Linked DNA regions of Homo sapiens. The protein of the gene in region 1 interacts with the protein of each later gene in a biochemical or structural test. Each region holds a gene or a part of one and is shown in the gene's direction. Other genes may lie near its edges.

Region 1 (3,500 bases):
GTGATGCCGTTTGGCAGTTTCTAGACATGTGATATTTTAAACAAAAAGAAGCCACTTTGTTATCTTTAGGGAGATAAAAACAATTTTCATTTGGTCTTCAGGAACAAAATAAGCAACTTCCTTTTACAATTTTAACCATAAACTGTTTTGTTACTTGAATATTGTGTTGTAGCCAACAAGTTTGAATATACAGTCATGTTCTTGTCTTGAAATTTTAGTATTGATAACATAGTATAAAAAATTGGAAAAAAGGTTGATACATCGAAATAGTTCAGTGATCCTTTATAGGCAAGATTTTTTTCCCCCCAAGGTTGAATTTACACAGTAATCTGACTAGATATTTAGGTATGTTTTTTTCTATTAAATCATTGGGTTTCACATACAAACCTTTAGTGGTAGAGTACTTGGTCACATAACTTGTTTAAAATATGCTATCCAACAGAAAATATGTTAAGATATTTTGTTCTTGTTTTTGTTTTTCAGGGGGTTTGGGAAACAAGGCTTCCAGTGCCAAGGTAAGCTACCACTTTTGGTTTTATTTTCAAGCACAACATGAAATAAGCATTCCAAACAAGAACATTATTTCCAGTCATATTTTCTTTCCAATAAAAAAATGTTATTTAGATAATTTTGAAATATGAGGGCTGTAAATTTGGGCCTTAAAAAATAATTGGGGCCTACTAATCTGCATATAGAGCTGCCTTTTTCTCATTGGAAAAAAAAAAAAAAAGCCTTTCTGTAATTTTATTTTTTGCCGAGAACATTCTTGTCAGAAACTGCTGTCTTTGTGTGGGTGTTGAGAAAAAAATGGAATCACTTTGTATTCAAGTGGCTTTTCTTCCTTGTTCTTCCTCTTTGTTTTTATTCTTCATCGCTTTTACTTATGTATTGAGTTGGACTCACTGCAACTAATTTTAGGCCGTATTTCATTCTAGTAAGGGTTTGTTTTGTTTAGAATACCAGTTGTCATCGAGAACAAAGTTTGCATGTTTTAAAGTTTTGTTGATGATTTGATGACTGATTTCTATGGTATGACTATGTAGCATGCTTTCCTTTCAGCTTACATATCTGACAAAACGTGATATCAGCCATCACATACAGAAAGAAATCCATTTGCTTCACCCTCTGATCTGTAATTGCATTTCACACACATCGAATATCTAACTTTTTGTACTCTCCATTCTAATTGTTTGACTTTTCCTTTTTGAAGAAACCCACTTTAGAGCTTGTGAAGGCATCACAGGCTCATTAGCTAACTTTTCTGGCTCTCCTGCTCATTGTCTATATTGTGTTTATTTAGTTCTGGTTCCATTTCCCATCTGGGCATAGATTTATTATTAGGGCAAGCAGAAAGTACATTCTAGCCTGGAAAATATTATCCTAACACTGTTTAATATTAAGTGCATTAGAGAGAAAGGCACTGTGTACTTTTTTACAACTTTGAGATTGTGCTAGTAAATTGGTTGCCTTTTAAAAACTAGTTCAAATTTGTGAACTTGTTTCTTGTATACATTTTCTAAACATATTTTAGATGGGAGTATTTTATGGTATGATTATTCATTTAATATTCTACCTTCCTTTCTCCAAGATGTGCTTAAAACCCCTACTGAGTGTATCATTTTCAGAGTTGCATTTGAAAATCAAGGGATATTCCTTTTAAAAAGAGAAGAAAGAGAAAGATGTGTTATACCAGTCTCTACAAAAGATGAAAGGAAAATGTAGCTCTTTCTAGTTCTCAAAGTTGTGGGCCTGAACTTTATGGGTGAGATTTGAGCCTAGGCTTGAACATGACTTTAGGGAGTTTAAAGATGTAAGGTTCTGGGCCAATGTGATTGACATCTGTTATTTTTGGTGATATTTTTCGTTTGGGTGGGGACTTACATAAATCTATAAGAAAATTTTTGTACTGAATCTTCTCCATACTGCTTGTCTGGGAGAAAGTGGTTGTCTTGTTCTAAAACTTTTATCATTTTCTGCATAAATAAAAAATAAGGTTGATTAGAATAAGGTTGGTTCCTCTTAGACCCGCTCATCTGAGCAGATTTTGTGGAAATCACAGTGGCCGTATTACTAGGCTCTAGGGGGTTTTGCATGATTTCCCCCAGAGCATCTCTTGAACTTTTAGTGGATTAGCAGATTAATAGTTTCATGGCAACATAACTCCCTTTTACCTAAATTAAAAAAGTGAAACCCATAAAAATTTTAAACTGTATAAAATAAAAAGTGAAATTGCATATGCTTCTCTTTTCCCTCCTCCAGAGATAACTTCTGTTTGAGACAACCATTCGTTCACTCACTCACACATACTTAGTTTTTAAAAGGAGATCAAAATTTTATACGACTTTGCAACTTGCTCTTTTCACTCAGCAGTAGATGGTGGATATTCTTCCACATCAAAGCATCAGTTCTGCCTTACTCTGCTTAGTGGCTGCATGTGTGGATGTATCCAATTTATTCACCCATTCCTCTATCAAGGGGTATTTTGTAATTCGTTCTTACTAGTACAAATACCTTTGTCAAGAGCATTATTGGACACTAGTATAGGTATTTCTACAATAGATAGCCAGAAGTGTGTATGTGTGCATCTTACATTTTAACGGGTGCTGCTAAATTGCTCTTCAAGAGTTCCAGTGCACATTTTTTTGTATTAATGGGACTTCCTCTTCATTTTTACCAGTGAAGATATCGGGTAATATACATCTTTTACATTTTTTACCAATCTGGTAGGTGAAAAGGGGCCCCTCTTTTAGATTTCCATCTCCTGCATTATGGGTGAGCTTGAACTTTTTTTTTCAAATGTGTTTTAGCCATTTGTGTTGTGTGAATTGCCTTACTCTACCTAATATTTGAAACTCTGGATTTACAAACCAGACAAATTAGAGAAGTGACTATGTGCTTTCTATATAGTTCTTTGCTTTGGTGAAGAATTTAACCTCAGATCTCTTTAAATAATGAATTACCCTAGTGCGTTTACAAATTACAGTTCACAGAGACCTTTTCCAATAGTATACATTTATTTGTAACATGCTGTCTGCTTGTTATATTTTGTTTACTGTGTCTCATCTGTATTTGACTTCTAGTAGGCATATGCTAGTCCATTGTATTTTATTGTTTGTTGTAACTTAAGAAGGATATGTTACCTCAGGGTGATGCTTTTAATCCCACAAATATAGTTACCCAGCATTTTCTGTTTTGGCTCCTACCGCAAAATTAATCTTTCTATTAACATCTGACTATCGTAGAGTGAAGTTTTCTTTTAATGCTCTCTAATTTTGTTTTTTTTTTCCTCGGTTTTGTTTGATAGAACATCATTCTTCTGCAGGAGAATAACTCATTCTCATTCATACCTTTGGCAACACACTCTCTGGAAATGACAGCTGGAGTTTGAAACTGCTTTTTGTATTCCTCATACATCAGATTATTTTTACCCGATGAGGCAGTGCTTTCTGTCCACTAGTATGTAGTATGTTGCTTTGGTTAGTAGGTAAAATATCTGCAGC
Region 2 (3,166 bases), on another chromosome or scaffold:
ATACATCCGGGATGCCTCCTGTTGGGCTGTTGGTCCCCTAGTGGATCTTCATGAAGGCAGGTAGAAACAATGCAGCCAGTTGTCTCTGCCGATTTGACATTTGGTAGCTGGGTCCTTCCTGCTGTCCCCACCTCCCGAGTAATTAGAGCAGCCACTGTGGTAGTGGTGTAAGTGAATGCACTCTTTGTGGCATCCTGACTGGCTTGGCAGAGTGTTGGAGTTCTCTGCTGCAAGATGATGCAGCATAAGCACTTCCGGGCAACTATAATCAGATTGGAACCCGCCGACCCTTCACCCGGAAGGCCGTACCCCAGGCCCAGACAGGAAGCAGCAGGGACCTCAGCTTGGCTGGCTCTGCTAACAGCAGCAGAATTAATCTCCCCAGGGCCTGCAGGACATGATTCATAATTACCTTGGGAACCTCACAGTACAAGACAGACAATAGTTGCCTGTGTCTTAGTCTGTTTTTTTATGGCTGTAACTGAATACCTGAGACTGGGTAATTTATGAAGAAAAATGGTTTATTTCTTACAGTTCTAGAGGCTGGGAAGGCCAAGGGCATGGTGCCCGCATCTGCTGGGCTTCTGGTGAGGGCCTCCTGCTGCATCATAACATGGCGGAAGGCATCACAGGGCAAGAGGGGCACATGAGAGAGAACCAAGCTGCCTTTTTATAACACTCTTGTGATAACTAGCCCACTCCTGTGGTAACCCATTAATCCAGGAATGGGCTAATCCATTCATGAGGACAGAGCCTTCATGACCCAATTACCTCTTAACGGCCCCAACTCTTAATACTGTTACATTGGGGATTAAGTTTCTGTATGAATTTCAAACCATAGCATTCCAGCCCTGGACCCCCCAAACTCATGTCCTTCTCATATACACATATATTAATTTGGTCCCCATATCCCCAAAGACTTAACACGTTGCAGTCCTAGCTCAAAAGTTCAAAGTCCAGAATTTCATCTGAATCAGACAAGACTCACAGCATGATTCATCTCAAGCTTAATTTCCTTCCAGCTGTGAGCCTGTGAAACTAAACAAGTTATCTACTTTCAAAAAATAGGGGCTGTCCCTGGCCCCTAAAAACATCAGCTGGTGGCCAGGCACAGTGGCTCATGCCTGAAATCCCAGCACTCTGGGAGGCTGAGGCAGGATGAATACTTGAGGCCAGAAGTTCAATACCAGCCTGGGCAACAATGCAAGACCCCATCTCTACATAAAATTTTAAAATTAGCCAGGCATGGTGGTGCATGCCTGTAATCCCAACTACTTGGGAGGCTGAGGCCAGAGGATCATTTGAGCCCAGGAGGTCAAGGCTGCAGTGAGCTATGATTGCGTAACTGCACGCCAGCCTGGCCAAGAGAGTGAGACCCTGTCTCTAAAGAAAAAAGCAAAAACAACAAGAGTCAGACGAAATGATATAGTCTGGATATTTGTCCCTGCCCAAATCTCATGTTAAATTGTAATCCCCAGTGTTGGAGGTAGGGCCTGGTGGGAGGTGTTTGGGTCGTGGGGACAGATCCCTCACAGCTTGGTGCTGTCCTCATGATAGTGAATGAGTTCTCTCGAGATCTGGTTGTTGTAAAGTGTGGGAGCGCCACTCCACCCTCTCTCTTGCTCCTGCTTCCTCCATGTGACATGCCTGCTCCCGCTTTGCTTTCCACCATGACGAAAAGCCCCCTGAGGCCTCCCCAGAAGCCAAGCTGAGGCCGGCGTCATGCTTGTACAGCCTGCAGAACCGCGAGCCAGTTAAACCTCTTTTCTTGGCTGGGCACGGTGGCTCGCACCTGTAATCCCAGCACTTTGGGAGGCTGAGGAGGGTGGATCATCTGAGATCAGGAGTTCGAGACCAGCCTGGCCAACATGGCAAAACCCCGGGTCTACTAAAAATACAAAAATTAGCTGGGTGTGGTGGTGGGTGCCTATAATCCCAGCTACTCTTTTGGGAGGCTTAGGTAGGAGAATCGCTTGAACCCAGGAGGCGGAGGTTGCAGTGAGCCGAAATTGGGCCACTGCACTCCAGCCTCGGAGACAGAGTGAGACTCCATCTCAAAAAAAAAAAACAAAAAAACAAAAAAAAACTTATTTTCTTTATAAATTACCCAACCTCAGGTATTTCTTTATAGCAATGAAAGAATGGCCTCATATACCAAGCATTCACCCATTGTTGACCTGGCCCTCTGTCCCCTCTCTCCCCAGGTGAAGAGTCACAGTTTGAGATGGACATTTAAAGCACCAGCCATCGTGTGGAGCACTACCAAGGGGCCCCTCAGGGCCTTCCTGGGAGGAGTCCCACCAGCCAGGCCTTATGAAAGTGATCATACTGGGCAGGCGTTGGCGTGGGGTCGGACACCCCAGCCCTTTCTCCCTCACTCAGGGCACCTGCCCCCTCCTCTTCGTGAACACCAGCAGATACCTCCTTGTGCCTCCACTGATGCAGGAGCTGCCACCCCAAGGGGAGTGACCCCTGCCAGCACACCCTGCAGCCAAGGGCCAGGAAGTGGACAAGAACGAACCCTTCCTTCCGAATGATCAGCAGTTCCAGCCCCTCGCTGCTGGGGGCGCAACCACCCCTTCCTTAGGTTGATGTGCTTGGGAAAGCTCCCTCCCCCTCCTTCCCCAAGAGAGGAAATAAAAGCCACCTTCGCCCTAGGGCCAAGAGTTGGGCCCCGTCTGAGCTTTTTTCAACTCTGTTTGGTAACTAACACCAGCTGCTATCTGTACAGTGCTGCTGCTTTTTTTTTTTTTTTTTTTTTGAGACGGAGTTTCACTCTTGTGGCCCAGGCTGGAGTGCAATGGCGCAATCTCAGCTGATTGCAACCTCCACCTCCTGGGTTCAAGCAATTCTCCTGCCTCAGCCTCCCGAGTAGCTGGGATTACAGGTGCCCGCCACCATGCCCAGCTAGTATTTTTTTGTATTTTTGTAGAGACAGGGTTTCACCATGTTGGCCAGGCTGGTCTCGAACTCTTGACCTCAGGTGATCCACCCGCCTTGGCCTCCCAAAGTGCTGGGATTACAGGTGTAAGCCACCGTGCCCAGCCTTGTACAGTGCTTCTAAAGCGTGGGCCTGTCCTTATTTGATTCTGACTCTGATCCTGTGGGTAAGTAGAACAACTGTTATCCTCACTTTACAGCTGAGAAGACTGGCACAAGAACAGGT

The links. The genes of interacting proteins can lie anywhere in the genome.
Region 2: of the proteins of PRKCA (region 1) and EIF4EBP1, one has a biochemical effect on the other in vitro, tested with the Homo sapiens proteins (one large-scale study listed by BioGRID).

What each region holds. Positions count from the first base shown.
Region 1 is NC_000017.11:66,305,613-66,309,112, forward strand, and holds part of PRKCA (protein kinase C alpha type), read left to right. Parts: intron 1-483; coding exon 484-515; intron 516-3,500. UniProt on the Homo sapiens protein: Calcium-activated, phospholipid- and diacylglycerol (DAG)-dependent serine/threonine-protein kinase that is involved in positive and negative regulation of cell proliferation, apoptosis, differentiation, migration and adhesion, tumorigenesis, cardiac hypertrophy, angiogenesis, platelet function and inflammation, by directly phosphorylating targets such as RAF1, BCL2, CSPG4, TNNT2/CTNT, or activating signaling cascade involving MAPK1/3 (ERK1/2) and RAP1GAP.
Region 2 is NC_000008.11:38,057,700-38,060,865, forward strand, and holds the end of EIF4EBP1 (eukaryotic translation initiation factor 4E-binding protein 1), read left to right. Parts: intron 1-2,204; coding exon 2,205-2,236; 3' UTR 2,237-2,666; downstream 2,667-3,166. UniProt on the Homo sapiens protein: Repressor of translation initiation that regulates EIF4E activity by preventing its assembly into the eIF4F complex: hypophosphorylated form competes with EIF4G1/EIF4G3 and strongly binds to EIF4E, leading to repress translation.